Linked DNA regions of Homo sapiens. The protein of the gene in region 2 interacts with the protein of the main gene of each other region in a pairwise test. Each region holds a gene or a part of one and is shown on either strand. Other genes may lie near its edges.

Region 1 (7,845 bases), on a different chromosome or scaffold from region 2:
CTACATGCTGTTCTTTAAATTCCTTATATATCTTTGAACTGATCATTGCTGCAGTATGAGAAACAGTACAGTAAAAGAGTTAAAATCCAAAGCCAGACCATCTGGTTCCAAACCCCGGCTTCTCCACTTACAGACTAAATGGTCCTGAACATAAATCTTCTTTGGGCCTCACTTTCCTCATCTGCAAAAGGAGAGTAAAAGCAGTTTACCTCAAAAAATTATGTGGTTAAACAGTAAATTTAGTTACCAAATTTCTTTAATAATTTTATTAAATAAACTTATGCATGTAGAGGGCTTAAAAAAAGGTCATGGGTACATGGTAAGTGCTCAATAAATGCTAGCTATTATTAGCTATTTTACTCTTGGAAAGACTTCCATGATATTTTGTTAAGTAATGTAAAAAAGTTACAAAACCATATCTAATATGAGCTTATTTAGTCCTCAGGAAAAAAAAACAAATATCAGTAGATATGTACAGGCATAAATTCTGCTCTATAAACACAAAAGTTGGTATAAGGACAGAAAAAATTGCAAGGAAAAACCAACTTAAAAAATAGGGAAAAGGCAAGGGCAGGACTTTCATTCCTTTCTTTATGTACTTTCATGCACAAAAATATAACTTTTATTTTATTGTGTCTTCCAAATTTTCTATAAATGAAAGTGTTTTTCATATTAAGAAAAAAAATTTATGTTTTTAAAAGGCAATTATGGTGATGATAAGCACAGGAAATGGGGATAAACAGCACCATTCTGAACCACCAAAACCAATGGTAGAATGGCATGAGTGATAAAAAATGCATAAAATAAAACAGCAAGCAGTCTTGTTGGGCAAAAACTGGTTAGAAAATTATACAAATGTCCTACAGTTTTTTAAGATAGTCAATTATGTAAGGGAAATAGCACTTTACCAGAGATCAGTAGTTTGTTGTTTTAAAGGGCAATTCCAACAGTATACAAATATTTGAAATGTGTAAATCTTTCCACTAAACAATCATACTTCTAGGCATATAAGAGAGCAAGCATAATATATATTGAGGACATTGTTGAATTGCAGTATTATTTGAAATGGCAAAAAACTAGAGACAATCTTAATATCCATCATGGACAAACTGTTAAAAACCAACACATATGGTACAGCCAGGCTATTCTGGGATTATTAAAGATTAAAGCACATATGCATGTATAGCACAAAAAAAGAAGTTACAGGTTAATTAGAACAGTATGATCACCATTTTTTGTTAACTCAAACTACCTATATATATTTAGGGGAAAGTTCTGGAAAAGTTACAAAATGTCACAAATGACACTTCTTGGGATGGAATAATTTGGGTACAGGGAGGGGTAGAAGAGCAGGGCTTTCACCTCTTCCATAGCATATCTTTATATAGCTTGAATGTTATAGGAGCATGTATTATTCTGTAAAATTTTTAGCAGCAGAGTATTCAAGCACAATTAAATGAGATAATGTGTGAAAGTACTCTTAGCTCAATCCCAAAAAGTAGCAGCCCTGTCCTTGAGTGGAAATCTCGACTTAGACAAATCCCACCAATCAGGTACACTTCTAGCACCTGTTCCACATATGTACGCATACCCATGAGCAAGGGTAATGCAGTCTTCATACCTGAGGGAATGTCTGTGGGAATCTGGCCCATCAGGAAGACAGGGAACAGAAATACAGAGGCCAGACTTTTCCCCAACTATCATCAAGGGCAAAGCCATGGAGTACTGGCAGACCTGGCAAAAGTGGACTCTCCCCCTGGCTTAATGAACAATCCAACCTTGGTAGGAGGAAAGAGGGAAATTGACTTTATTAACACCCTCTTCAAAAACAAATGCTCTTCATCTTTCAACCTTCAATGAATGAAATTACTAAGAAGGTGCATTTCCGCTTCAAGAGAGCAGCTCACAAAGTTAAATACGGTAGGGACTTAATCTATGTACACCATCTGATATTCCATTATATACTGACTTTTTATTGCTAATGTTTTCACCTGTTTTGGACTTGGCTGCCAATTAAACTGTTAGTTTTCCAGGGCGCTGTCACTTCAGGGAAGCTGCACAGGGTACTGAGAGAGCGCTGGACTGAGTAGCATCAGAGGCCATGGTTCTCAGCAACACTTCTGTTATGTACTGAGAAACCTTGAACCGGTCATAATTTCTTTGGGTTTCAATTATGAAGTCAAACTAGATGACCTTTAAAGAATTTCAAGTTCTATTATCTTTTGATTTTTACATTTCTCATAGGACCCAATATGGAACTGAGTACAGCTATTTATATCAAAATTATTTTGTCTTCACTTTTTTTTTTTTTTTTGAGACGGAGTCTTGCTCTGTTGCCCAGGCTGGAGTGCAGTGGGGTGTGATCTCAGCTCACTGCAACCTCTGCTTCCTGGGTTCAAGCAATTCTCCTGCCTTGACCTCCCGAGTAGCTGGGACTACAGGCGCATGCCACCGCACCTGCTAATTTTTGTATTTTTAGTAGAGATGGGGTTTCACCATGTTGGCCAGACTGGTCTCGAATTCCTGACCTCGTGATCCTCCCACCTTGGCCTCCAAAATGCTGGGATTACAGGTGTGAGCCATCACGCACTGCCTTTTCTTCACATTTTTATAACAATGTGCACACATTGTCTTTACAACCCAATGTTTAGCAAATGAGATTCTACCTAATTTTAATAACAATAAAATAATTTATTAAGCATGTAGCAATTACTTGGAACAATTCTAAGCATTTTATGTGTACGAACTTATTCAATCTTACAATGATCCAAATACTTTCCCCCATTACAGATAAGGAAACTGAAGCCTGGAGTTTTCTTGACCTAGGATACAGAGCTGGAACATGACAAAGCCAAAATTCAAACCCTGGTAGTCTAGCACATTTAACATTACACCCTACTATCTTTAGTACAGGAGAGGGGGAAGGATACAATATTCAAGCTGCTTTTTTTTTTTTTAAGTTTTGGGATACATGTGCAGAACGTGCAGGTTTGCTGCACCTATCAATCCGTCATCTAGGTTTTAAGCCCCGCATGCATTAGTTATTTGTCCTAATGCTCTTCCTCCCCTCAAGCTGCTTTTTCAAACCGAACAAGTATTCTCTTCTTTACCACCTCACCTGAAACTAAATTATAATCAAATAATTATGCCAATTGAATAACTGGAATGGGAACTACACAAAAGCAGACAAAATATTAAATTCTGGATGTAGCAATTCAAAAAAATTTTGAAAAACCTAGCAAATATATTGCCAGGCTTTCCCTGCACTGCCATCCCTTCTCTCTGTGCTTCTAGAACACTTAACATGAACTGTATTACAGCACAGATCTAACAGGAATAAAATTTCTCTCCCACCACAACTGAGTTCTCATTTGGCAGGCTTGTCAGCATATTCTTTGTACCCCACTTCGGTAACAGGCATCATCACTCACTCCAAGGTTGGAGCCCAGTCAAGATTGCTGAATGAATGTCCAAGTTCAAGGATGTATTAGTGTAAGGTTTGCTGCTGTTTTAGTATGATAGACAAGTCAACACTTTGGCCATGCTGCAATTTGGAAGGGCTTTCAACGTAATCTTGATTGGTAACAGCTCAGAGAAGGAGAAAGGTGATTCAGGGTATGAATCAAGAGCATGGCAATTTACAAACAGTGTATCAGTTTCAAATTCTTCCAATGTACACACAGGAATAGCAGCAATCATATTCTTAGAAGATTATTAAGAAACAAGAAAAAAAAGAGGCACTTTTAGAAGTCTATCAACTTTTAAGGTTAAAAGTCAGCTAAGAAGTCCAAATCAAATTTTAAAATTACTATTTATTGGTATTTCACTCCTCAAATAATGAAATGGTAATAGCATCTACTAAAGGCATTGGAAATAACAAAGAAACCAAACATAATTAATAAATCTACTCATCGTTTTTTCAATGATTTAGCCCAAATTCAATCATTGGTTATAGTTGTCAACGTGTGGTCCTGGGACCAGCAGCATCAACATCACCTGACTCAATAAAAATGCAAATTATCAAGTGCCACTACAGACCTACAGATTCAGAAACTTTAGTGGTGGGAGAACCTCCACGTAATTCTGACAAAGTTTGAGAATCACTGCTGTGTTCTATAGAATGTGGTTCAGTATAAATTAGTATTCTATTTATATGCACTTTCAATTAGAGAACACCAAAAAGGAATTCTTATCTAAGGGTCCTACAAAATGGATTCCAAGAATGATGTAAAAGTGTTCCAAAGCACTAAATGGAGGCTGAAAATAACAGTCCTAGGGAATGCCTGGCTAAGCAGCTTATTAAACCTTAGAGGATGGGGGGAAACTCTGAAAAATAAACAGTTCATCAGCTGAATATTCATTTATCCTATTCACATACTCTACAGCCCAGCAAGTCCACTCCTAGTGAAACCCAATCGAAACTCTTGCCTACGTATGCCAGGAGGTGTGCACCTATACAGCAGCATTCTTCACAATAGCGAGTAGCACAAGAGTATCACCCTGGAAACAACCCATATACCACCAACAGGAGAATGGATAAATTATGCCATATGCACAAAATGGAATATTATGCAGTAATCAGAAAACTTCAGTGACACATAATATAAATTTCAGTATTATAAAATGAAAAAATTTTCAGAAGATAGGGCATGTAATATATACAGTTTTAAATTATGTGATGCAATAAAACTATAAAAGACACCGAGAGAATGATGAATATAGGATTCAGTAAATAGCTGCCTCAGGTGAGGGACAGAGGAAAAAGGAATGGAGGGGCCCACAGGGTTATGCACAGGGTTAGGTGGTACTTACTGTATTATTAAAACTATAAATGGACCAATTAAACAAACGTGTCATGAGCCAAGGAATATAAACTAATTCTTTACACCTGAAGTCCTTTAAAATGCTTTAAATACATATATATAAAATGTTCCTCCAATATTTCAAACAATTCTAAATTCTACCCAGTCAGTTTGGCTGTGGAGGCACCAAGAGCCCTGGGTCCTTGGCCTTACTGCCAACTCAGGGGTTAAAATGTTTTGGGTCCCAAAACCCAAAGCCAATGACCCTCTTCCTTTAAAAGTACAAGAACAGGCAATTTGGGCTAGAGTTTCAGAGGATCTATGAAGCCATCCATTTGCAAAGGATCCATGGATGGCAAGTTAATAACTCCTGTACTAGCTAATTATGTGAAACTGGTAGGAGAGAAGCTGATGATGAACTCAAGAGCACCTAATGCATGCCAGATGGGGCTCCATTAGCTGTTATCACTTAATCCTCACGCTAGCCCTAGGAAGGAGTAAAGATAGCACTGGTTTATTGATGGAAGAAACTGAGGCAACAGATTAGGTAACTTACAGTTACAAACCTGGAAGACAGAAATAAAATCCAGCTATTTAACCTGGAAAGACTAAAAACTAGCTATTTATGATTCCAAAGCCTCACAGGCCTGGTTTCCTCCTGACATTCAACAAATATGCTGAGCAAATGATATCAATTCTCTGAGCCTATCGCCTCATTATAAAACAACATGGCTAATGATGGGTTGTACTTACAGATTATTTCTATGATGTTGGCTTGCTTTTATAGTCTAGATCCTATGCAGGGGGATATTCCTGAAATTTGGCTATAGAATAGAAAATAAAATCGAAGGCTATAGAATAGAGAATAAAATAGATAGGAAAGCACAACCAGATTACAATTAACAGGCAAATGAAAAGTATAGGCAGTGGCTGGAACCCATCTTGAATTTTAAGTATCTACTTTACACTATTTAGGCTCTATATACGATTTCAAAATTATTTAGTCCTACAATTCTTTTAGAACAATATTTCTCTACAAATCTCCTCCAAACTTAATGCTTGCAAAATAAGTTCTATTTGTAGCACCGTGGCACAAAAATATATTCTCAGTGCTGACTGTATGCCAAGAACTACACATGAAGTAACTTAAATACTTTTTTGCTTTTTATCTTAATTTTTAAAATTTTTTTACAAAAAGCATACAATACTTTTATAATCTGAAAAAAAAATCTTTGAGACAGATATTATAGTAAACTGGGCAATTAATGGTCAGGGACCAGCTGGCTGACTTAGTCAGTGACTGAGGATAGTGAAGAACAGGTAAGAAATAATTCAGGACATGGTGACAAGTACACAAAAGGGAGGCATCTACTCTCTCACATAAAAACCTGTCTTTGGCACTTGACAGATAATAGTGTCATTTAGATAAAGGGAACAGAGGAGTAAAGTTAGTAAAACTGGGTTTGGGCAAATGTGTGGAGATAATGAGCTTTGTGTAGCTTACTGGGTTTGGAGATGCCCTTATGAGACATTCACATGGGGATAAACTCTAGGCCTAGAACTCACAAGACATCCGAGCACATTTAGATAGATGAATTCATAAAGAAAAAAGGGGCAGGAGAACAAACCCCAAAGAACATCAACATAAGCGAGTGAAGCAGACCCAGACACAAGAGATACAAAGAGACAGGGGAACGGACTTCAGGAAAGCCAAGGGAGAAGACTTTTAAAGAGAAAGGGTGATACACAGCAGCAAATGCCATAGAATGGGCAGGTTTTGAATTTTAAAAAGTGTTGAATTCGGTGATTAGTGACTTAATGACAAAGCTGAGGGGTAAAAATGAAAATCAGACTTCAGAAAGATGATCACCAAATAAGAAAAGGAAAATCACTTGTTCAAGAATCTCAGTTTAAAAGAATGTTAGTTTCTCTGAATGTAGAGGCTTTATTAGACGCTCATGGATAGATCTAGCATGACAAAAAAAAAATCCTGTCTTTAAAGTCTGTTCTTACTCAATTACAGCATTTTTATATCAAGTAGAAATATTAAGTGCTCAGTAAGTATGAGCTATTTTTCCAGGCATTGTTCTGGATACTAACCTATTTTTCTAATCACACCCCTACGAAGCAGGTATTGTTATTATCCTTCATAAATGCGACAACCAGGGCACAAGATCACATAGCTAGTAGTGTGGTAGATCAAACCGAAAATGTGACTCAAGAGAATATGAGAAAAGGATATGTGTGAAGCAAGAGTTAAAAGATGAGAACAACTGGAGTTAAGATTGTTCTGAATGTTTAACTGCTTGTAGTTTCATTTCTATTTAAAAACTTATTTTTGCTAATTTGAAAGACTATTTCTTCTCTCATCTCAGAATCCTACATTGCTAGAGTCTGACATTTTTATGTCTGACACCCAGATTCTGTACTGCATTATAACTGTGTTATTTCTCCTACTGAACTGCAGGTTGCTTGAAAATGGGGAAGTATCTTATTTAATTTGTATCCCTATTCTTCCAGTCTTCAAAGTAGAAGATACTTAAGAAAGGTTTGTTGTATAATTATTTCTGCTTTTCTGGAGTTTCTGAGGGCTTCAGCAAAATATACTTCAAGTCTAACTGCTGTGTGGGACTGTCTTTCAGATATTATTTGCACTATACTCAATACATTTTGGATCACTCAAATTACTGATTTTGGTGGAAATATCCTTCTAAAGTAAAAATAAAATATAATTCCCCTTCATAAAACCTTCTGAAGGTTCCCTGTAACCTACTGGTCAATGTTCACAGCACTGTTCTACAGCCTTATTAATATGGCAACCCCACCCTGGTCCAACTCTACCAAGCCACCTGTAACTCAACTGTACACTGCTGCAGAATGCACCAGCTGCTTGATGAACTCCACTGCCTCTACCAGACACAGCTGAAATTCTCCTTCTTTTTGAAAGCCTTCCTATATTTGTTTTTTGTGAGGTTTTTTTGCTTCCTGCCTCACTATGCTGATAATTTCTAAAATACAAATTCCTCAAGGCAACACTCATCTT
Region 2 (7,934 bases):
CAGCTAAGTTAGGTCTGATTTATTTATTCAGAATATTAGAAAAACTGCAAACAGGCCGGGCGTGGTAGCTCACACTTGTAATCCCAGCAGTTTGGAAGGCTGAGGCGGGTGGATCACCTGAGGTCAGGAAGTTTGAGACCAGCCTGGCCAACATGGTGAAACCCCGTCTCTACCATAAATTAAAAAATGAGCTGAGTGTGGGGGCACGTGCGTGTAACCCCAGCTACTCGGGAGGCTGAGGCAGAAGAATCACTTGAACCCAGGAGGTGAAAGTTGGAGTGAGCTGAGATTGCCTTATTGCACTCCACCCTGGCCGAGAAGAGTGAAACTCCATCTCAAAAACAAAAACAAACAAAACACACTATCAACAAGTCACAGCTGAAGCTGTCTGTGCAGCACTCAGCAATCCCTGCCCTCCCTCCCTCCTCCACTTACAGCCAGTCACCTTAGTTTGATGGCTTTTTATTCACATTCATGTTTGTATACATTTACCATTTACTTATTATCCATAAAAATATATATTCTTCTTTTGCATGTTTTAAAATTTTATATGAATGACCTCTGTAGTTAACTTTCTGCATGCAATTTTTTTTTTCACTCTGCCCCGATGTGTATGAGGGAACAAATGCCTGAGGCTCTTTCCCAGGTAGCTGAGCTGAAAAGCAATTGGGCTTGAGGAGACCCTTTCCAGCCCCTTCCCATCTACTCACCCTGATTCCCACGGTTAGGGTCATTATCAAAATCATTCCCCTGGAAGTCTGTGACCCGTTTATTACGCATGAAAGATGGGAGGATGGCCTTGAAACCTAGAAAGAAGCAAAATGTTTATTCCTTAAGAGACAAGCTTGGGCCTGGTACGGTGGCTCATGTCTGTAGTACCAACACTTTGGGAGGCTAAGGCTGGAGGATTGCTTGAGGCCAGGAATTCAAGGCTGCAGTAAGCTATGATTGCACTACTGCACTCTAGCCTAGGTGACAGATTCAGACTGACTCAAACAAAAAAAAAAAAAAAAGAAAGAGACAAGCCGAGAGAAGGTAGAGTGGGTGTGTGTGGGGTGGGGGTAGGATGGTTGCCGGGATGCCACAGAGACAGTTGGGCTCATCAGAACAGAAGCCTAAGAGAGAGAAACGTGCAGGATCCAGGTATGAGCTCCACTGTGGCCAGTCACTGCCCTCAGCCCTGACAGGATATAGAAGAGCAGAACACCCAGAAGCTGCCTTGCGATTTTTCCCTACACAAAAGGAAAATGTGAGGTACTTTCTGCAGCCTAAGAAATAGCCAAAGCAGGAAAAGGGATGCTCATGTGTCCCCAGACTTGTCTGTACCTAGAACTTTCTGTTACCTAGTTTAGTCATGGCCTCATACTTTCTCTTCATATACACATAGACGATTTTCTCCGAGACTTTCATCTTTTCCCACTCTTCCTTAGAGAAGTATTTGGCAATATCATCGAAGGCCTACAAAAAAAAAAAAAAGGAATTATGGCAGGGACTCAGCTAGGCATGTCTGCCATTCAGCTGGAGTCGCTTCCTGTGTGCTGGATCTGGGAAGTGGGGATAATCCTTCCTGGTTGATGCCACGGCTAACTGACAGAACATGAGGGACCTTCCTAGCTTCACCCCTGCCACACTGTCGGGCTTTAATGCTGCTGGCTGGCTCTCCTCCCACCTTCCAGAATGGACTGAGAGTCACCAAATGTAGTGCAAGGTCACAGACTTGTCTCCAGGGATGCTAGGTGATGACAGAGTGAGGGTGGGAGGCTCCCAAGGGTCCAGATCTCCCCTGAGACCCTGCTCCTTGTCTCCAGTATCTCTGTCCTCCCCTCCTCAGAAACCGGGTCACCCCACACTGTCCCCTGGGTCACTACTCTGCTCCCTCTAGGTCACCTCACCTTTTGTATCTTCTCTGGTATTTGAGCACCAACCGTGGGTCTCCTTGCAAAGGTGTCATCTCCGTTCATGGCACAGGGAGTAGTCTGACCTGCAAGAGAAACAGATTGAGACTTTCCAGCCGCAGGACCTTTGGTCTTGTGGAGGGAGAAATCAGTGAAGGCCGGCCACTCAGTCACCTGGAATCAGGTGCTGCATTTCTCCATCCGGGGCTTATCTGTCCCTGAGTAAGGATATGGGGAGAAATCAGACGAAAACCAGGAACCAGGGGTCTCTGGGAGAAGTATTGATAGGGGATGACAGGTTTCCTATGGGCAAAGCAGCCTTGAGTCTTTGGGAGGGGGTTGGCTAATGTTGTTAGTAATTTCCCTGGAGCTAGGCTTCCCCTGAAAGATGTATGGACCCTTGTTGGGGAGGCAGGGACATGACTGTGTAATTTTATTCAGTGGGGCATGCTGACACCCCCGCTCAATAAATAAAGGAAGGGAAGTTAGTCCCAGAGATAACGTGGTCTCTTTGGTGATGGATCTGATCAGGCAGAGGGATGGGGGGTTCTGTTCTGCTGAAGAGAAATGAGCATCGCTAATATGAATGTGTTCAGAGGCTATTACTGGGTGATTTGTAAGTTATTAGAACGAAGAGAGCTAGAATTTCTGAGACTACAAGAGCCCGCCATCACTTAGAGAGAATGTGGGGCATTTCAAGTTGCAGCAATCAGCCAGGCGCAGTGGCTCAGGCCTGTAATCCCAGCACTTTGGGAGGCCGAGGCGTGCAGGTCACTTGAGCCCAGGAGGTCGAGACCCGGCTGGGAAACACAGCAAAACCCCCGTCTACAAAATAAACAAAAAGTTAGCTGGGGTTGGTGGAGCAGGCCTGTACCATCCCAGCACTTTGGAAGGCCAAGGTGGGCGGATCGCCTTAGCCCAGGAGCTTGAGACCAGGCTCACAAACGTAGCAAAACCATCTCTACTAAAAAAAACAAACAAACAAAATTTAGCAGAAGCGGGGTGGTGCGCGCCTGTAGTCCCAAGGCCTAGGTGAGAAGATCACTTGAGCCCAGCAGGAAAGATTTGAGTGATTTTTTTTTTCAGACAGGGTCTCGCTCTGTTGCCCAGTCGGGAGTGCACTGGCGTGATCATGGCTCACTGCAACCTCCGCCTCTTGGGTTCAGGCAATCCACCAGCTGTGGCTTCCAAAAGTGCAGGGATTACAAGTGTAAGCCACCACCCCAGGCCCAAATTTCTTAAGTTACTACAGAGTTCCTAGGAAAAATCCCATACCTGAAAAAGTTAGAAACTGACAGGAAAGATTTGAGATGGCGGTTAGAAACTGACAGGAAAGATTTAAGATGGCGGCCTGCCTCATATACACTCCTTATTAAAACTAGATAGCAAATGCACCACGGAGGAGGGGAGGGGTAGGAAGAATGGAAAAAGAAAATCAGTGTATTCTTACTCTGATTTTGGAAGAATCCAAAGAGAAAATCAGACCGTGCGTACTCTTGAGTATGGAAGAATCGAAAGAGAGAGAAAATCAGAGCATGCGTACTCTGAACTTAAAGTAGCGAATCCCAGGGGATGCTTTAGGCGGGAAAATTAGAGTCTCCACCCCCACTTTGAGAAGGTTGTGTCCCTGGAGCCGGGACTGATAGAAGCCACATCCGCTTCGCTTGTTCCGCCTACTGTTCTGACTTCTAATTGGCCAGATGGAGTTCACTAACTGCCCTGATTGGTCCATCATCCTTGGGCAGCGACATTGCAGAATAATGTCTCCTCCTCCAGCCACACCTTGTCGCCACTGCGAAAAAGTGGGTGGTCCTCAGGCGCCGTCAGATTTTGATCTCTCTGAAGACTGTTCCTGGATCTTGGGTTAAAAATCTGGATTCTAGTCTGAACTGTGGGAAGAAAAAAATAGTCAATCTGTGATTTTTCTACTTGAAAGCCACAATGTTTTCCAAACTAGCACATTTGCGGAGGTTTGCTATAATTAGTCGTGGAGTTCATTCTTCAGTGGCTTCTATATCTGTTGCCACTGAAAAAACAGTCCAAGGCCCTCCAACCTCTGCTTACATTTTTGAAAGGGAATCTAAGTGTGGTGTGCAGAATTACCATCCTTTACCTGTAGCCCTGGAGAGAGGAAAATGTATTTACTTATGGGATGTGATTGTGGTATTGGTTACATCTGCCTTGGCCAATCCTCCCGCCTCTGTCTCGGGACTACAGGCGCAAACCACCCCACCCCCACTAATATTTTTTATTTTTTGATTTTTTAATAGAGAAGGTTTTGCTGTGTTGGCCAGGCTGGTCTTGACGTCCTGGGCTCAAGCGATCCTCCCACCTCGGCCTCGGGACTACAGGCATTCACCACCCTGCCTACGCTTTTTTTTTTTTTTTTTTTTTTAAGTAGAAACCAGGTTTTGCTATGTTGGCCAGGCTGGTCTCATTGGCCAGGTTGGTCTCATCGTCCTGGGCTCAAGGCATTCTTCCACCATGGCCTCGAGACTACAGGCATGCACTACCCTGCCTACGATTTTTTTTTTTTTTTTTTTTTTTTTTTTAGTAGAAACCATGTTTCCCTATGTTGGCCAGGCCGGCATCAAGCTCCTGGGCTCAAGGGATCCTCCTGCCTCAGGACCGCAGCCACGCACCACCCTGCCCAAGCTATTTTTTGTTTTGTTTTGTTTCGTTTTAGTAGAAACCAGGTTTCGATATGTTGCCCAGGCTGGCCTCAATCTCTTAGGCTCAGATGATGCTTTCATCTTGGCCTCAGGACTATAGGCGTGTGCCATTCTGCCCTGCTCATTTTTATTTTCATTTATTTATTTATTTATTTATTTATTTATTTTAGGAGAGGCAGGCTATCGCTTTGTTGGCCAGGCTGGTATCAACCTCCTGGGCTCAAGCAATCCTCCCACCTTGGCCTCAAAACTACAGGAGTGAGCCACCCCACCCACGCTATTTTTTTGTTGTTCTTGTTGTTAGTAGAAATGGGGTTTCACTATGTTGGCCAGGCTGGCCTCAACCTCCTAGGCTCAAGCAATCGTCCTGCCTTGGCCTCGGGACTACAGGTTCACACCACCCCGCCCCCACTAATATTTTTAATTTTTCTACTAGAGACAGTTTCGCTATGTTGTCCAGGCTGGTCTCTACCTCCGGGACTCAAGTGATTCTCCCGCCTCGGCCTTGGGACTACAGGCATGCACTACCCTGCCTTTTGCTATGTTTCCCAGGTTGGTCTTGACCTCCTGGGCTCACTCAATGATTTGAACCTGGGAAGCCGAGGTTGCATTGAGCTGAGATCACACCACTGCACTCCAGCTTGAGCGACAGAGCAAGACTGAAAAAAAAAAAAAAAAGAAAGAAAGAGCAAGAGAGAGATCAGCGGAATCTCCGTAAGAACAGGGAGCTTTGTGGTATTTTAACTTACCCTTGTCCCATCTCGTGCTCCCAGCTTGGTTCTGTTCATTGCTGATGAAATACAGATAGGATTGGCCAGAACTGGTAGATGGCTGGCTGTTGATCATGAAAATGTCAGACCTGATATAGTCCTCCTTGGAAAGGCCCTTTCTGGAGGTTGATACTCTGTGTCTGCAGTGCTGTGGGATGATGGCTTAATGCTGAGCATTAAGCCAGGGGAACATGGGTCCACATACGGTGGCAATCCACTAGGCTGCTGAGTGACCATCGCAGCCCTTGAGGTTTTAGAACAAGAAAATCTTGCTGAAAATGCAGAAAAAAAATGGGTATTATCGTGAGAAGTGAACCCATGAAGCTACCTTCTGATGTTGTAACTGCCATAAAAGGAACAGAATTATTATTATTATTATTATTTGAGTCAGAGGTTCACTCTGGTTGCCCAGGATGGAGTGCAATGGTGCAATCTTGGCTCACTGCAACCTCTGCCTCCTGGGTTCAAGCGATTCTCCTACCTCAGCCTCCTGAGTAGCTGGGATTACAGGCATGCACCACTATGCCCAGCTAATTTTTGTATTTTTAGTAGAGACGGGGTTTCGCCACGTTGGCCAGGCTGGTCTCGAACTCCTGACTTCAGGCGATCCACCCGCCTCAGCCTCCCAAAGTGTTGGGATTACAGGCGTGAGCCACTGTGCCCGGGAGGAAAATAATTATTAAATGCTATTGTTATTAAAGAAACCATAGACTGTAATGCTTGGGAGGTGTGTCTATGACTTCGAGATTATGGACTTCTGGCCAAGCCCACCCATGGTGACATCATCAGGTTTCGCCTCTGCTGGTGATCAAGGAGGATGAGATTCGAGAGTCCAGTGAAATCATTAACAAGACCATCTTGCCGTTCTGAGGGTAGCAGCTGTTTTCAGTGGTTCCTGGGAGCCGGCTGGAGACAGGTGGTCCTGTAAAAGCTCTGCTCTAAATGTAGGCACATTCCACTCCCATGTGTCTTCAAAATCTTTTTGTGTATATATGTTTTTTCAGTTGATACATAATAGGACAATGTTTATGAACCTGACATTTGCTTTGTAGTGTTAAGAGAATGTAATGGCATCTATATTCAGTGAAAGTGTTTTGATGTGCACGTGTACTTTATAAGGTGAAATGCATCTGTATATACAGACAGCCTTTAAATCACATCCTTCAGTATACTTTATATATGCTTTTATAATTTCCTTGCTGGTATAAAGGTTTTGTATTTGAAAAAGATATCTCTAGCGTATTACATAAAAGGCTTCACCTTATAAAGTCAAATCATTGTTTTCATTGAATTTTAGGAACGATCAATGGTTAAGCATATAAAAAATACTAGTTTTTTTGTTTTGTTTTTGTTTTTGTTTTTGTTTTGAGACGGAGTCTCACCCTGTCACCCAGGCTGGAGTGCAGTGGCTCGATCTCCGCTCACTGCAAGCTCCACCTCCTGGGTTCACGCCATTCTCCTGCCTCAGCCTTCCGAGTGGCTGGGACTACAGGTGCTCACCAAAACGCCTGGCTAATTTTTTGTATTTTTAGTAGAGACAGGGTTTCATCGTGTTAGCCAGGATGGTCTCGATCTCCTGACCTCGTGATCCGCCCGCCTCATCCTCCCAAAGTGTTGGGATTACAGGCGTGAGCCACTGTGCCCGGCCTATAAAATACTAATATTAAGTAAACTTTATATTGACCAACACCAGGATATAGTCTATGGATGTCATTATTTTGAATTAAGAATTAGTGTTTAACATTCCTAAATTGTTTTGAGTGCTTGATTATAATTTGTAAAAAAAAGTTTACTTTTAATATTTCTTTACATTTTAAACAAAGCTTGTATTTCAGAAAAAAAAACAGACAGAACATGGCCGGGTGCAGTGGTTCACGCTTGTAATCCCAGCATTTTGGGAGGCCGAGGTGGGCAGATCACTTGAGGTCAGGAGTTTGAGACCAGCCTGGCCAACATGGAGAAACCCCGTCTCTACTAAAAGTACAAAAATTAACCAGGCATGGTGGCACCCGCCTGTAGTCCCAGCTACATGGGAGGCTGAGACAGGAGAATAGCTCAAACCCAGGAGGCAGAGGTTGCAGTGAGCTCGAGAGCGTGCCACTGCACTACAGCCTAGGAGACAGAGTGAGAATCCCTCTTGAAAAAAAAAATGTACAGTACATTTTCATCACCGCAATGCTATCCCTTGTGCTACTCATTTTTAGTAATACTCTCCTCCCATCCGCCATCCCTAATCCCTGGCAACCACAAATCTGTTTTTCGTTTCCACAATTTTGTCTTTTCTACAATGCTGTACAAGTGAAATCTTATAGTATATCATGTTTTATGGGCTTATTTCACTCAGCATAATTCCATGGAGATTTCTCCAAGATATTGATATTTGTGTATCAATAGTTCATTGTTGTTGTTGTTGAGACAGAGTCTCACTCTGTCACCCAGGCTAGAGTGCAGTGTCTCGGCTCACTGCAACCTCTGCCTCCTGGGTTCAAGCAATTTTCCAGTCTCAGCCTCCCGAGTAGCTCTGACTACAGGTGCGCGCCACCACACCCGGGTAATTTTTGTATCAGTAGTAAAGATGGGGTTTCAACATACTGGCA
Region 3 (7,845 bases), on a different chromosome or scaffold from region 2:
AGAGTGAAACCCCGTCTCAAAAAAACAAACAAAAACCCTTCCTGCTGCTGGAGTGGAGAGTCATATTTTGCTCACTTCCAGTATTGTTTTACCTTCATTTTCTTTGAGAAAATTTCTGCAAAAGGATCTAAGTTGATCTTAATTCTCTCTTTATAATGTAAATATTTACAAAGTAATTTTTTTGAAGGCTTGGATAGTAGAAAAACTTAAGTTTCTATTTATGTACCTCATGTAAACCCAATTCCAATTTCATCACCATTTCAGAAAGATGACGATTTTCTAATTTGAGTGACTCCAGCTGATCCAAAATCTCCTGAAAAGGGGAAAACAGAAAAAAATAAATATAACATGTAAATCACATGCATCTTACAAAATTTTTCCACATGGAATTTTCATTAGGCTAAGTCATATTCTTCATTTATATATATATACATATACATATTTATATATATATATACATATATATATGTACGTGTGTGTGTGTATATATATATATATATATATATATATATATGGACTTTCTAAAAAGATTTTTAAGATGTTATTAAGGTGAATGAACATGAATGGGATGAAGATATCATTCTAATAGGATAAATCAGGTGACAAAGCAGCAAAGTTTCAATCCACTGAACCCCTTAAATCCCTACCCATTCTCCTGTGCTGGCCTCCTCCAATTTGGCTTCTACCTGCAACGTCACATGGAATTGTACTTTATTCACAAAATAACAACTTATATTCAGTTCTCATTCCCCTCAGCTTTTGTGCTTGACCATTCCCATTTGAAAATATTCCTTCTTTCCTTGGCTTGGCAAAAACTATCTGATTTCCCTCCTCACTGCTCCTTTTTTTAAGCTTCATTCCAACATCTTTTTTACACTAAATGAGAAGTATCCTAAGTTTGGTTTGAGTCACTTCTCTTCTTACGCTATGCTTTCTCACTATAATCATTAAGTCTCTCAGGGGGTTTCAAATGTCACCATGAAGAAAGGACAGCCACAGCTAAATGCCTAATCCTGATTTTAATCTTCAACTCCAGGCCTTCTGTGGAATTGACTATTACCCATACAAAATTCCAGCCTTTATTCCAAACAAATGTGTCAAACCAATGTCCTCTCCACCAGTTTCCCCAGTCTGTGTACTTTTCACACAAATTCATCATCCTTCACCAAACTTGCTCCCTGTCTTTTCTCTATTTCATTAAAAAGCATCACTTTCCATCAGTTGCCTAAGTTTAAATCCTGTGGAGCACCATTCCTTAACTCTGCCTACCTCACCTTCCCTGCCAATCAAATACAATGCCCAGTCATTTTTACCAGCCCAGTATCTCCAGAATTCATCCATTTCCCTCTGCCTCCCTTGCCCACTGCTCAGGCCACCATCTTACCACTGTAACAGCATCTGGGTGCTCTGTCTCCCTGCTTATTCTCCATTTAAGGACCACTGAATTTTACTCCTGCTTGCAGCCATTCCCTACTGACCTCAAGGTCACAGTATAACTCCTTTACGTGGCTAACGTAGCCCTTCAGCAGCCAGTCCCTGCTTTCCAGTCTCATACCTTCCACTCATCCCACTTGTACTCTAGTTTCAACCACAGCAAGCGTGTTTCTACTCTCTCTTAGAGACCTCTGTATTTTCCTGTGCCTGAAACACTTTTCCTCCCCATCACCCAGCTTGCTCCTAACTTAGCTTTGCTATCACACCTTCTGGAAGGCCTTTGCAGCGAGTGGTCTAGATTCAGGCTGCTTGTGATCTCTAGTGACTCTCACCATACACCACTGATACAGTCACTTTACTTGTCTGTGTCTACTCTCACCTCCCCACCATGCTCACTAAACTCTTTGCTAGCCAGCATACTCTCAGCTCAAAGCAGGTATCTAATAAAAATTCACTGAATTAAATATTATGAAAATTATGTCTTTAATCAACTCCATCTTTAAAACAAATTTCAAATTTAAAAAAGGTTTTGTTCAGGCTTCACCTTATGCTCTACTGCTTTGTCTTCTGCCTTTTGCATCTCTGCTCTGAGTCGCTTTTCCATGTCTGAGGAAGAACCTTTGGTGGAAGCAATAGTGATATCTCGCTGATGTAACTCCTGAGTTAGATGGGAGATTTCCATCTTCATTCCTTCTAGTGCAGAACTGTAACTTTGTTCACCCTGTAAAATCTGTTCTTTCAACTATAAAGAAGCAGAAAAGAAAGCACCAAAAGTTAAGAGAAAGCATTTAGATAGAATAATATGTTACTAGCTAATAAAATAAAAGTTCACCTTATCTCAAGACATTAAATTTCTCTTAAATTAAATCTGCAGAAAAATTAGCAATTTACCAAGTTGCATATCTGTACTGAAGGTCAGGTGGTTATACCTACAATCATTTATTATACCTCAAAACAGGGAGAGATGGGTTATTCAAGTGCTGAGGACCAGAATCAAGGTCCATGCACACAATTTAGAGGAGAGTACTTGTGACCTTCATTCTTTTTTTTAGTTGTGAATCTAAAAGTTTTGCTCATATGGTATCTTAGTCCACAGGATAACAAATAGAACAAGAGGAAGTAAGGAACTAGAAGTAATCTTAAAGAAGTAACAAAAAATACAAATCAAACAAATAGGACAGTTAGGGCCCATTCATATAGACACAAACAGCTCTGCATACCTCAATAGCTGACAAGGATACTAACTACATCATAGCACAGGAGACAATACATAAATACTATCTTTAGGCAATAAGAAAATATTAAGTGACAGTTCATATTTTTTTGCAAGCAACAGAGTGTATGTCTTTTAGAAAACTTTTCATCAAAACATGTTTAAAATAAAGTTTTTGAGTTCAAAGGGGACAGCCTTCAATTATCTTAAAAATATTTATTGGGCATCAGGGGCGATGCCAAAGAAAGAAGGCACTTTCCCTATGCACATTCCACAAACTCTTCCACTCCTAAATATCAAGTGGTCCCTTGAACTACATTTTTTTCTCATTAAAAATAACCCCTATAATCTCCCAATCCACAGCTTTGTCCATAAACACATACAATTTTGCAATCCTAGGTATGCAGATTTTTACCTTCTTAATCTCTGCTTTGTATTCATTGTTATGTGCTTCCATCCTCTTCAGTTCTTCATATTTTTCCATTAGTTCTTGGCTCAGCTGTTTACACGTTGCACTCACAGATTCCAAACTGTATGACAAAAATAAGATCCCATACTTAAAACCAAAATCCTGAAACCTATAAATTGGACTATCTAATTTACATTCTTGATATCCAAAAAATATCCAGCCAATATCTTAAACATCACCTCAGTCATTTAAAATATTACTAAAAAGCCAATCAATAAAAAAACTGTGATAAAAATGTAAACTGTTGTCCCAACGTCAAAAATAATAAACTTAATTTTAGTCAAACGGAAGAGTACACATATACTTCAATAATAACAAAGACTATCTCAAGTACTCCAAGTATTCCAAAAGGAATAAAGCAGAAAATATGTGTGTGTATGCATGTTTGTGTATTTAACATGTAGATAAAAGTAAGAAAATACTTACTGGTTTCCAAAACCAGAAATAAATGTAAAAACAAAAAATGTATTACTTAAAGATAACCTAAAAAGTGTAAAATGATATTTCTCTTGTTGTTTGCCTAAAGGTTAACAGTTCATGTTAAAAGCAATTTTATCTTTTACATACAGAAAATGTCAGTGTACAAATGATCATGATTCATGTGTTTAAAACAAGATATCACACTCTTCCCAATCAAAAAGTTGAGAGGTTATGAAAAACCAAAAAAAATTCTATAAGTACGACAATGACAAGTGTTTAGGTGGGTATGGTATAGCATTAGTCAGGATTCAATTAACACCCAAGGAAGTAACAACACCACAGCAGAACAAAAAGGATCACCATGTGTCAACTGTTACCCCTTCCTACCCTGCTTCTGAGGTGGCAAGGAGGAAAACCTAAGTGAAGGGCTGCTAAACAGGTGAAAGGTAAAGAAGTAGAGTCAGTATAGACAACTCTTTTGAAGAATTTGGTCTTAAAGAGAAGTACAGAAATGTGGAAATAACTTGACGGAGACATAGGATTAAGGGATGGTTTTTCCCCCAGATGGGTGATGTTACAGCGTATTTTATACCAGTGGATAGATTCAGCAGACAGAAAGAACTTGATGATGCAGAAGAGAAAGGATATAACTACAGAAAAAGGACACAAGTGGAGTGGTTGGTCTTAGAAGTGCAGAAAGGCACAGGTATGGGCAGACTGGTAGATTTGATGACAGAAAGATTAAGAGGTTCTCCTTTAATTGCTTCTGTCTTCTCAATGAAATAAGAACTTAGGGCAGGGTGCGGTGACTCATGCCTGTAATCCCAGCACTTTGGGAGGCCAAGGCAGGTGGATCACCTGAGGTCAGGAGTTCAAGACCAGCCTGGCCAACATGGTGAAACACCGTCTCTACAAAAATATAAAAATTAGCCAGGCATGGTGGTGCACGCCTGTAATCTCAGCTACTCAGGAGGCTGGGGCAGAAGAATCAATTGAACCGGGAGGCGGAGGTTGCAGTGAGCTGAGATTGTGCCATTGCACTCCAGTCTGGGTGACAGAGCGGACTCCGTCTCAAAAAAAAAAAAAAAGAAATAAGAACTTAGGCCATTTGTGGATACTAGAAAAAAATCTTATTTTTTTTACTATGACTATTACATTCATTTACAATATGATGATCAAAAATTCATTTTAACAACTTGAAATTTTTGAAATGTGTGTATAATTATGTACCTGCCTTCAAGACAAGTCACCTCTGCCTGCAGAAGGTCCTCACTAGTATGGGTAAAATTCAACTGGGAGAGCACACTGTCTAAGTCCCCCTGCCCTTGAGAGGTGTACTTCTTTTCTGCCAGAGATTCTTCCCGTGGCCTATGGAAAGACATAGGATGATTGTTAACGCCTTTATCTCTGCAAACAAAAATAATGCTCATCTAGTCTGTGTTTCCCCATCATTTTTGGTAACCTCTTTGGAACTCTTCAAGTTTGTCTCCTGCTTTATAAAAAGAATATTGGGAGAGGAAAGAAAGAGTCAAGAGATGCTGATACTTCAAAAAGTAGCAATTTACTCCCTTCTTAACTGGGATTTGGCCTTTTTTCAAGGGAAAAAGACAAAATGGCAAAATCACTTCAGTGACACTTGAAACCCTGTACCAAAAAAACTGAAAAGTTACAGGAGAATTCTGGCAAAAATAAAAGTGTGCATCAGACTTAAATCAAGCAAGAGGGCTAGCCCAATGGCTGGCTGCTATTAATGATAAGCAGCTACTAATCACAACTTATTCCACCAACAAAGTGAGGCCTCCAGGAGACATGGATGACAATTCCCTGCACATTTGGATTTTCACCAAGCATGCAAACTGACCTTGGTTTCTAACTTTCTAAACATGAGAGTCTCTGTTAGGGACCCTAACTGGTGGCAGAAGAAAATTAACCACACAAAATTTTATAACACTTTAAAAACCTAACTCAGAAGTTAAAGCCAATTAAGAAAATCCACAATATGATCAAACATAAAATTATGAATATGCAATATGAAAACTAGTGCTTGGATGGGCGTGGCAGCTCACACCTGTAATCCCAGCACTTTGGGAGGCTGAGGTGGGCAGATCACCTGAGGTTAGGAATTTAAGACCGGCCTAGCCAACATGATGAATGCCCGTCTCTAAAAATACAAAAAACTAGCCAGGTGTGGTAGCATGCACCTGTAGTCCCAGCTACTTGGGAGGCTGAGCCTGGAGAATGGCTTGAACCTCGGAGGTTGAGGTTGCAGTGAGCTGAGATTGCACCACTGCACTCCAGTCTGGGCAACAGGAGACTATCTGAAAATAAAATAAAAATAAAAATAAAAATAAGCCTAGTGCTTAATACCTAGTCATTAAGTGGCTAAGATGAATAATATTTAAGATTAAATTTACCTTATAGCTTCTACAGCATGTTGAGTGTTAGTTGCCTTTACTTTTTCTTGTAACTTCTCCTTTTGTATTCTGGCCTCATGTATGAGATTTTCTTGAGACTGAAGAGCTGCCTTCAATTCTCTCTTTTCTTCCTGCAGAGCCTGCAAAAAAGTCAAATATGATTATAATTTTCCTTCTTTTTAATTCCTGCAGAACCTGCAAAATACTCAGAAATTTCTAAGCCAGCTATTATTACAATTTTTCTATTTCACGAGAAGCCAGGAAGTCAGACTATAAGTTACGTAACAATATTACAATATTGTAAATATTGTAATAAAGTCACAATATTAGTAAAACTATCAATATCTGATCCATCATTTATAAAGTAGGGAAGAAAGTATGGATTGTAGAACCTAGTTCTAGCTTAATAACACTCTCTTAAAATACTCATACACACACTTCCCCCAATTATAGTGATTTTAAAACATACCTCTAATAGTTTTTCAGATTCCCTCAATTTTTCTTCTTTTTGCTGCTGCTCCTGTAGGACAGTCATACTGGTTCCAACCAAGTCATTGACCCTCATGGTGAGGCGCTCTATTTCCAACTCATTGGCACAGATAGTGTCATTAGCCCGCTCCAGTTTACTGCTTAAGTGTTGAATTTCTGATTGGCTAGAAAGTTCCACAGACTCTAATTTCTGTTTCCGATTGACAAGCTGAGCCTAGAAACACAGACTATCAATCAATAGGTAAAAGGGAAATGATAAAATAATCAATGAATAAGACTAAAATGAAACTATTATTTCCATAAAAACATAAAGCATTGGCTCACTAAAATATATATATATATATTGCGAAGGGGTAAGAAAGAATTGAGAGGCTGGGAGTGGTGGCTCACGCCTGTAATCCTAACACTATGGGAGGCTGAGGCAGGCAGATCGCTTGAGCTCAGGAGTTCGAGATCAGCCTGGAAACATGGCGAAACCCTGTCTTTATAAAAAATACAAAAATTGGCCGGGTGCAGTGGATCACGCCTGTAATCCCGCACTTTGAGAGGCTGAGGTGGGCGGATCATGAGGTCAGGAGATTGAGACCATCCTTGCCAACATGGTGAAACCCGTCTCTACTAAAAATACAAAAATTAGCTGGGCGTGGTGGCGCGTGCCTGTAATCCCAGCTACTCGGGATCGGGAGGCTGAGGCAGGAGAATCACTTGAACCAGGGAGTTGGAGGTTGCAGTGAGCCGAGATTGCGCCACTGCACTGCAGCCTAGTGACAGAATGAGACTCTGTCTCAAAACAAACAAACAAACAAATAAAATACAAAAATTACCCGAGCACAGTGGCATGGGAGGATCACATGAACCCAGGAAGCGGAAGTTGCAGTGAGCCAAGATCGCACCACTGCACTCCGGCCTGCGTGACAAAGTAAGAACCTGTCTCAAATAAATAAATAAATAGAAAAGAATGGATAAAGTAAAGGGATTCCTCAGGAGAAGAGATGCTACAGTATTCTACCTACTCACACAGAAATTCAACCGCAACCTGGCTGGAATTATTTCCTATTTAAAACATAGGAAATAGGAACTATAATGCATTATTATATTTCTGATGGAAGTTTAGAAATTAGAATTTCAAAATCACTAAATTTGTAGTTTAAATTCCCCCCCCCACCTAGAGCATGTTGTAATTATTCTGTTTTAACATTATAAACATTCATATTTAGATTAGTCATCGTGACCATAAAATGCTCTTTAAATTCAGAGAAATGGGGAAATTGTGGTCTTTTGTTTATTGGAGGAAAAGGTGCTTATAAGGGAGGAGAGATTGGTTCTGTCATCAGTTTTTGGACACTTCCTGAGTTAAAAGAGGTAAACAAATATAATGCATCTCAAACTGGTTTCTCTGAATGATA
Region 4 (7,845 bases), on a different chromosome or scaffold from region 2:
TAGAGCTTCTGATTATTATCATCTACTTTGTTATCTAGCATTCAGTCAACTGGATTCTTTACAGAGATAATATACAGTATATTTATAGTGATAAAGAAGACATTTGGGCAATATCCTGATATATCTTCTGAAGTATAGCTTATTTTTTTTTAAGAAATGGAGTCTTGCTATGTTGCCCAGGTTGGACTTGAACTCCTGGGCTTAAGGGATCCTCCCTCCTCAGCCTCCTAAGTAGCCAGGACTACAGGTGTGCTCTACCATGCCCAGCTCTGAAGTATAGTTTTAAAAAACCTGTTTAATACAGTTTTTAGTATTAAGTGAAGTTATTCTATTTCTTTGAAAATTTTGGTAAATATTACAGTATTTTAGTAGGTAAACTCTTCTTCTTTTTACCATATTGGATATCTGAATTTTATGCTTTTCTTCACAAAGAAAATTATGAGTTTAAAATCATCCTTTTGATTGTAAACTTTTTGAGACTTATCTTTGTAGCACAAGAGTAGCAAGTAACAGAACTTAGTAAATACTTTGCGAATGGGTAATGTGAAATCTGAACTTGCATAGTAATGAACACAATTCATCCACATTGAAAAATTAGCGGATTAGGAGTAAACTGAGTCACTCCTATAGAGCACTAGATAATTCTTAACTGATATATTGATCTACATGAGGCGTTTTTATTTATTTTTGATTTGTTAACATTCCTCTTTTGATGTATTAATCTGCATGCGTGTATATTATTTAAAGTTTCTTAACATTTCTCTGTTTGCTATTTTAGACAAGTTGCTTTGGCAGATGCCATTCTCATTAATAAAACAGACCTGGTTCCAGAAGAAGATGTAAAGAAATTAAGAACGACAATTAGGTACGAAATGATAAGTGTGTTAAGTGCCTACAGATCCATGTTGTATACACAGAATATTTTTTACTCTGATTGTTGCCCTGTAGAAACTTAAGGTATAAGGTTGAGCTGCTTCAAGAACGTTAGGGAATCACATATATTGTTGATGGCTAATTGTTATATAAATGGTAATACATAAAATTAGTCCCCAGTGCTTGCAGAATATAGTTCACAGTTAATAGACTGATATTCAGGGTCTTCGCACTCCATCTTTCTTTTCCTGTCTTCTCTTTGACTCTTTCCTAATGTCAGTCTTCCCTAACTTTACCCAGGATGGTTAATTCACTTTCCCATGGATGCATCCTGTCAGTTCCTGTCTTTACTCGTAATGTATTCTCACTCTGCCAATCCCTGAGTTCTTTCTTGTTCTGCTTTTTTTTTTTTTAATTTATTCTATAGAGCCTATTCTGTCTCTCCCCCCTTCCTATGTGAAGTCTTCCCTGACTCAAGTGGTCTCAGTTTTCCCTGAACTCTTGTTGACTTCATCTTCCTTAACTGTCAACCATGCCTTGTCTTCCAGCTTGCTTTAATATCTTCTTTGTCCATAGCCAAGGCTGATCAGCATAGGACAATCAGGACAATATGAATGATGCTCAAATATGTGCTAACAGTCATTTTGCTGACTGTTCTGGAGACTCCCATTCCTTTTGAAAACAAAGATGGGCTTTTCAAATGAGGTTATAGTTCAGGGGCTTTGTTTTGAATTATTTTGTAAGACCTGAACTAATAAAAGCCCTATACAGAGAGACATTCGGTAGCTATTAGTATTGGTTATCTTTAATGTGTACAATGCTTTGAGCGTGATGGCTCAAAATTACTATTCTTAGTATTTATAAGTTCTACTGACATTAGATTTTGAATCTGTCATCTCAGTTCATATAGTATATATTATCAATTGAATCAATAAAGGTAAGGCTCATTAGGAGATTATTTGCCATGATTAATGATTGTGGAAGAAAGAAATTCATATTTTTTCCACATATTTCATCTTATTTTAATAGTAATGTCCTTAAACTTTACTATAAAAAAATATAATGTCTCCACGTGGAGGGTAGGTATTGTTGCGTAGTGTTGAAGATCACAGACCTTGGAATCTGCTTGGGTTCTAATCCTTGGTCTGTTTCTCATTGTCTTCTTAGGGAGCTTATTTACCCTTTTAAAGCCTCCTCTGTAAAAGGCATAATGCCTATCATAAGTTTGCTTTGAGTATTACATGAGACAATGTTGGTAAACTTTGCACAGTGCTGACACATAGTAAGTGCTCTGTTAGCTATTATTATGTAATTTTTTTCTTAGCTTACATAGTAAGTTCAAGGTATAGTAAAAAAGGGAAGAAAGAAAAAGATGGCTGATTTTGAAAAGGAGAAAGTGATGAATGAAGATTGCTTTTACATTTTTTGACACTGGTCTTCTAATCTTGTTTCTCTTCATAAATCTTGTGCACCATTGTGATTGCTAAGAAGAACACAATCTATTTAGCAAATGTTTTTGGCATAAAAGGAATGATAATTATTACTTGACTTTTATATCCTTATAGAGACCTAAGCTAAATCTCTGACACTGACAATATTGACTATTAGCCAGCTTGTTAACAGTACTAGAAATGAATTTGGAAGAAGCAATTTGATAAATTACACACCCTTTTGGCTTTTACCCTCCCTTTATATCAGACTTGTGACTGACTCAGAATGATATTTGGGGAGGTGAAAAAAGGTAAACATGTTTGAGAGGAATTAGCCATCAGACTAGAGTGTATTCAAAAAAGAAGATTTAAGAATTTTGTAAAATAGTGGAGAGACTTGCCTCAGAATCATTATATGTGGGAAGCCTTACCCATGAGAACAAACTTGAACAAGTAGCAAGAATCTTGGGTAAGTAACCCTAAAGACAATTGAATTCATGATAGAGAATTGATGATTGATGATAGGCAATGGAAAAGATAAATAGATGAGGTGTACAGTGTGTTGAAAAGAATTTAACAGGTACTTTTTGGTGCCATACGAAGCCATATTCTATAGTATCAAAAGAGGGAGAACAGGCATAACGGGTAGAGAGCCTAATTAGGTAACTGACGAGGTTATTCTATAAAGGAACCTGGGATGTGTGACTTAGAATTACTGTGAATACTAAGGACAGGCTGGGGGCAAAGCAACTTGCAACTAGGTTTTTATTTTTAGTGTGTATATAGCCATTTCTACCATGTATGCCTGAGGAAAAAAGTGACCACCGTAAAAATTTTGAGTATCTACTCATTTTTAAGAACACTAGGATAACTGACTATTTATGAATGATTTTTTCTAAAGTGAAGTGTCTTTTTATTAACCACAAAGTAGCCCTTAATCTGACAGTTGTGCGAATTTTTGCATATATGTTTTATTAATGTATGAGTGGAATATATGTGATTTATTGTTTGAAGGAAAATCACAATTATTTTTTAAAGCAAGTTTTGTTTTTCTGTTTTTAATTTTTTTCTGGTTCCAGATGTATTTGGGTATGCTTATTTCCTGTTTTAGAAACAATATACTTTGTATACTTTTTTAAAAAGTTAATTTTTACTTTTAAACTTTGTCTTCCTCATTTATTATTTATTTCAGATCCATAAATGGACTAGGACAAATCTTAGAAACACAAAGATCAAGGTACTTTAAAAAAGCTATTCCTATTAATAACAAATCATTTTAGTTATTAATAATAAACATTAAATAATTGACAAATATGCTTGATTCTAATATAAGAAAGATCTAAGTGCATTTAAAAAGAATTGGATCCAAAATGTTGTTTGGAATGCTCTTAATAAGTTAGTTTGGCATATTTGGCTAGTACATTTGCCTGTCTTCAAAACTAAGAATACAAAGCCATGATAACACTGTGTAAGTGTTTGCTTAATGAGGAAGAAAAGACTTCCAAACACTCGAGAGGGTAACTCAGTACAGAAATCTGAAGTATATTGAGGAATCTTAATTTGAAGTGTTTAAATGGCTTTTTAATATTTAAAAAGCCTTCTTAGTGTTTTATAGTTGCCAAAAAATACATGGAGTCTTTACCTTGAAGTTCCTGACAAATTCTTTTATTAAATTTTGACTTTCATTTTCTCTAGGTTCTGTTCCTAAAACATCTGTGAAGTGTATTTCTGTAGATTAAATTCTGTTTTCCATTGAATGTTATCTTAATTTCAGAAAATTTCTGTGCAGGGTTATTTTATTAAGCTCATTTTTTTTTTTTTTTTTTTTTTTTTGGTGAGAAAGGCTCAGCAGCTAATAGACTCAGCAACAGGCAGCCAGGAGCTCTGAGGCTCACAGCTGGCAGTCTAGTTCCACTCAGTCTCTACTGGAGAAATTCTTTCTTTGGAAGTACAGCAGAGGCCTTAGGTGAGTGGCTTGTCTGCTATGGCAGAGATTAGAGGTGCTGCCAGACTGCCATAAGTGTTAGGCAGTAACAGCAGCAGCTGCTTATATGCATGTGAACAGCTGGGGAATTAATTTGGTATGCATTCTCAGGAGCCACTCATCTGCTGGCAGAGGTAGCAGAAGAATGCCCTTAGTGTAAGTCCTCTACAACCATACACCAAATGTGCTCCCTGCATTTCAAATTCCATTGTAGAAAGTCTCTGATAATCTCACTTATACTATGAGCCATTCCTCAGTATCTGTCCTCTTCCTGTTAGTGTTCTACAATTCCTTTCTCCTTAATTTTTCTCCGCTTTACAAAATGTCACACAGACAAGTGCATAATACTTAAACAAGCTTTTAAAAATAATGCTCATAAATAGCTTTGGTTCTGTCATAATATTCGTATTTATAAACATTTTAAGTCAATTCTCTTCTTTTGTTTTCATTTCAGAAATATCCATGTCCTGAATAAAAGTTGTGTCTTGATTAGTTTATTATGTAACAATTTAGTGTGTTTGACATTTCTAACTTTTATTTCTAACATTTGCTTTATTATAGAACAATAAACATGCAGTGATTGATTTTTCTTACTTCAAGTGGATGAGTGAGCAAGTGACTAAAATCTTCTGTGAATTATTCAGTGTATGGTGCTTGCCAGTGCATCTGAGAATCTAGGGACTTTCTGAAATAGTACTTCCTTGCTATGAGGACTGAAGTTGCATTAGAATCCTTTTCAATGAAGATCAGATGTCCTGAGTACAATTCTTACTATTGGGTCCTGAATCTTACATTAAATATTCTCTCAAATTCCTTGAGGCATAGCAACTTGAGCTTACCAGTTTAGAAACTGGAGATTTGGGCTGGGCGCGGTGGCTCACGCCTGTAATCCCAGCACTTTGGGAGGCCAAGGTGGGTGGATCACGAGGTCAGGAGATGGAGACCATCCTGGCTAACACTGTGAAACCCCGTCTCTACTGAAAATACAAAAAATTAGCTGAGCCTGGTGGTGGGCGCCTGTAGTCCCAGCTACTCAGGAGGCTGAGGCAGGAGAATGGCGTGAACCCGGGAGGCGGAGCTTGCAGTGAGCTGAGATCGCACCACTGCACTCCAGCCTGGGTGACAGAGCGAGACTCTGTCTCAAAAAAAAAAAAAAAAAAAAAAACAAAACCGGAGATTTGGTTAACAAAATAGTCAAAGTCACTCTTATAGAAGTTTTGTTTTATTTTTTGTTTAAAATTTTTTTACCATTTTGTAGCTGACAAGTACTGACAATAAACTGCTATAAGCATGTGTAGAAAAAGGCTCACCTTGAGTAGTTAAGAGTAAGGAAAAGGAATAGTGTGTAGCATCGTCTTAGTGGTAAGACTTAAGTTGATTTAGTAGCAAATGGAAGTACTAGTGAACCACATAGATTTCAGAAGTAGGAGTAAAAGGTTAGAAGATGTGTCATTTTAATCTTCTCTAGACTTTTTCTTAATTTTTAGAAATGTAAGTGGACTGAACAGAGGAAAACCAAAACACAGCTGGTCAATAATAAGTTAAATTAATTTGACAAACTGCCTACTATGCATTTCATAGCATTTTAAGGACTATATAAGCAATGGATAAGGCAAAAACTCTGCCTTTAAGGAGATCAGTCATTGGGGGGAAACAGAAGCAAACAAACAAAAAGGCAACATAATAGATATTAATATTAATACAAGAATTTTAAAAGCACAGAGTTCTATAATAATAGGAAAATAGAGGGAATGATTGCTCAACTTTTCTTGAAAAAGAGTCAGGAAAATATTGACCGAGAAGACAGTCATTGACCTGAGTCTTAAAGAATGAATAAGGCTTTTACAGATGGAGTAGGGTAGGGATAACTTTCCAGGTATAAGGAAGATTTTGTATTCCAGGGACCTTTGAATTTTTTAGAATGGCTAGAAAACTTGGTATTATGTAGCACAGAAAAAGTGGTATGACTGAAGAGATAGAGAACTTACCACAAAGGGTCTTGAATGCCATGATACATAGTTTGGATTTTCTTCTGTAGGGAGCAAGGAGTTAGTGAAGGATTTTAAAAGCAACATGCCTCTTGGGAGGTAGATTCAATGTGAGGCTAATCTCCGAGGTATAGGAAATACAGGAAGGAGGAGCAACAGGTCGGGTAGTGGTGGAAGCAGGTTTGGAAAATGTGATTAGTTTTGTAAGCGTTTTTGAGTTTGAAGTGCCACTGGGGAAGGCTTTTGGAAATTTATTTCCAGAGTTCAAGACTGAGCTATCATTGCAGTTTGCTCAGCTATTTACTGAGCTATCTACTGTCAATTTGGATAGTATCTACAGTTTGCATTGTAGATACTGGATACTTGGATTGGCTGGTGCACCCTGTTTGTGAGACTCACTGGAGTTTGAAGAGATGACCACTGGAAAATATCCCTAAGCAGTAGCTGCAATTCCACCCCCACCTTGGAGAGCCAAAACCCTCTTCATTTTCACTCTCCTGTCCTTGGTCTTAGGCTACTTAAAGCAGCCTTTAGACATAGGGAAAAATTGAAAGCCTCTCTTTTAAGAAAAACATTAGGTACTTCTGGAATAGAGAGTTCAAGAAATTAGGAGAAAAATGAACTTTTGAAGCTTTTTCTTTCCCTTTTTTGTTTACTTCATTCTCTTACTCAGTTTTAAAATGCTGGTAATGGTCTTTTTTTTCTTTTTTTTTTTTTCTTGGCGATTTTAATGCTTTGGAAAAGATCTCATGGTTTTATCTCCAAAGGAGGAAATTAATTTGATGCCATGGAAATTAGTTTTCTAGTCGTATGCCTTGAATGAGTGAAGAATTTGTTTTTCATGGTGGTACTAAATTTGGGGAAAGCTATAGAAACTTTCATCTGGAAGCTTACACTTTTCCTCTTTTTTGAAAATTTGGTGAGAGACTTGGATATTTTATTGTTTTCTGTAAAAGAGTGTAATTTGTTGTACAGGTCTAATATTGATCCTTTTTTGGAAGTATGGAAAGAATCTGAGTATAAAGCAGAATTACCTCTGGATGGCATGTATTCTCAAGGACACTGTCACAGTGAAACAGTTTATTTAGAAGCTTGTGTTTCCAAAGTGTTGAATTTGATATTCACAAAATTGGCATGTGTAAACTTTATTAAACTTTAAGCTATTTCCTAAGATGAAGATGACAAACTTGGAGGGAAACTTCATTCATTTGGTTTATTTTTATTTTTATTTTTATTTATTTTTATCTTTTTGAGACAGAATCTCACTCTGGTTTGAGACAGAATCTCACTCTGTCCCCCAAGTTGGAGTGCGGTGGTGCGACCTCGGCTCACTGAAACCTCTGCCTCCTGGGTTCAGGCGATTCTCCTGCTTCACCCTCCGAGTAGCTGGGATTACAGGTGTGCACCACCACACCCAGCTAATTTTTGTATTTTTAGTAGAGACGGTTTCGCCACATTGGCCCGGTTGGTGTCAAACTCCTGGCCTCAAAGTGATCCGCCCACCTTGGCCTCCCAAAGTGGAGCCGCCGTGCCCCTTGTCTGTGACCTGTCAATATAAATATGCTCAGTA

Evidence for each region.
Region 1: the proteins of SSX3 (region 2) and SSX2IP interact in binary tests that used the Homo sapiens proteins (3 or more experiments, as listed by UniProt).
Region 3: the proteins of SSX3 (region 2) and CEP63 interact in binary tests that used the Homo sapiens proteins (3 or more experiments, as listed by UniProt).
Region 4: the proteins of SSX3 (region 2) and ZNG1A interact in binary tests that used the Homo sapiens proteins (3 or more experiments, as listed by UniProt).

What each region holds. Positions count from the first base shown.
Region 1 is NC_000001.11:84,680,207-84,688,051, forward strand, and holds part of SSX2IP (afadin- and alpha-actinin-binding protein), read right to left. Parts: intron 2,262-7,845; exon of another isoform or gene 1,992-2,261; intron 1,779-1,991; exon of another isoform or gene 1,622-1,778; intron 182-1,621; exon of another isoform or gene 132-181; intron 1-131. UniProt on the Homo sapiens protein: Belongs to an adhesion system, which plays a role in the organization of homotypic, interneuronal and heterotypic cell-cell adherens junctions (AJs).
Region 2 is NC_000023.11:48,353,289-48,361,222, forward strand, and holds the start of SSX3 (protein SSX3), read right to left. Parts: upstream 3,416-7,934; 5' UTR 3,346-3,415; intron 1,982-3,345; 5' UTR 1,962-1,981; coding exon 1,893-1,961; intron 1,459-1,892; coding exon 1,344-1,458; intron 807-1,343; coding exon 711-806; intron 1-710. UniProt on the Homo sapiens protein: Could act as a modulator of transcription.
Region 3 is NC_000003.12:134,544,394-134,552,238, reverse strand, and holds part of CEP63 (centrosomal protein of 63 kDa), read right to left. Parts: intron 6,654-7,845; coding exon 6,420-6,653; intron 6,091-6,419; coding exon 5,951-6,090; intron 4,905-5,950; coding exon 4,767-4,904; intron 3,178-4,766; coding exon 3,063-3,177; intron 2,177-3,062; coding exon 1,979-2,176; intron 314-1,978; coding exon 227-313; intron 1-226. UniProt on the Homo sapiens protein: Required for normal spindle assembly.
Region 4 is NC_000009.12:147,729-155,573, reverse strand, and holds part of ZNG1A (zinc-regulated GTPase metalloprotein activator 1A), read left to right. Parts: intron 1-778; coding exon 779-865; intron 866-3,495; coding exon 3,496-3,540; intron 3,541-4,146; exon of another isoform or gene 4,147-4,269; intron 4,270-4,848; coding exon of another isoform or gene 4,849-4,867; exon of another isoform or gene 4,868-7,845. UniProt on the Homo sapiens protein: Zinc chaperone that directly transfers zinc cofactor to target metalloproteins, thereby activating them.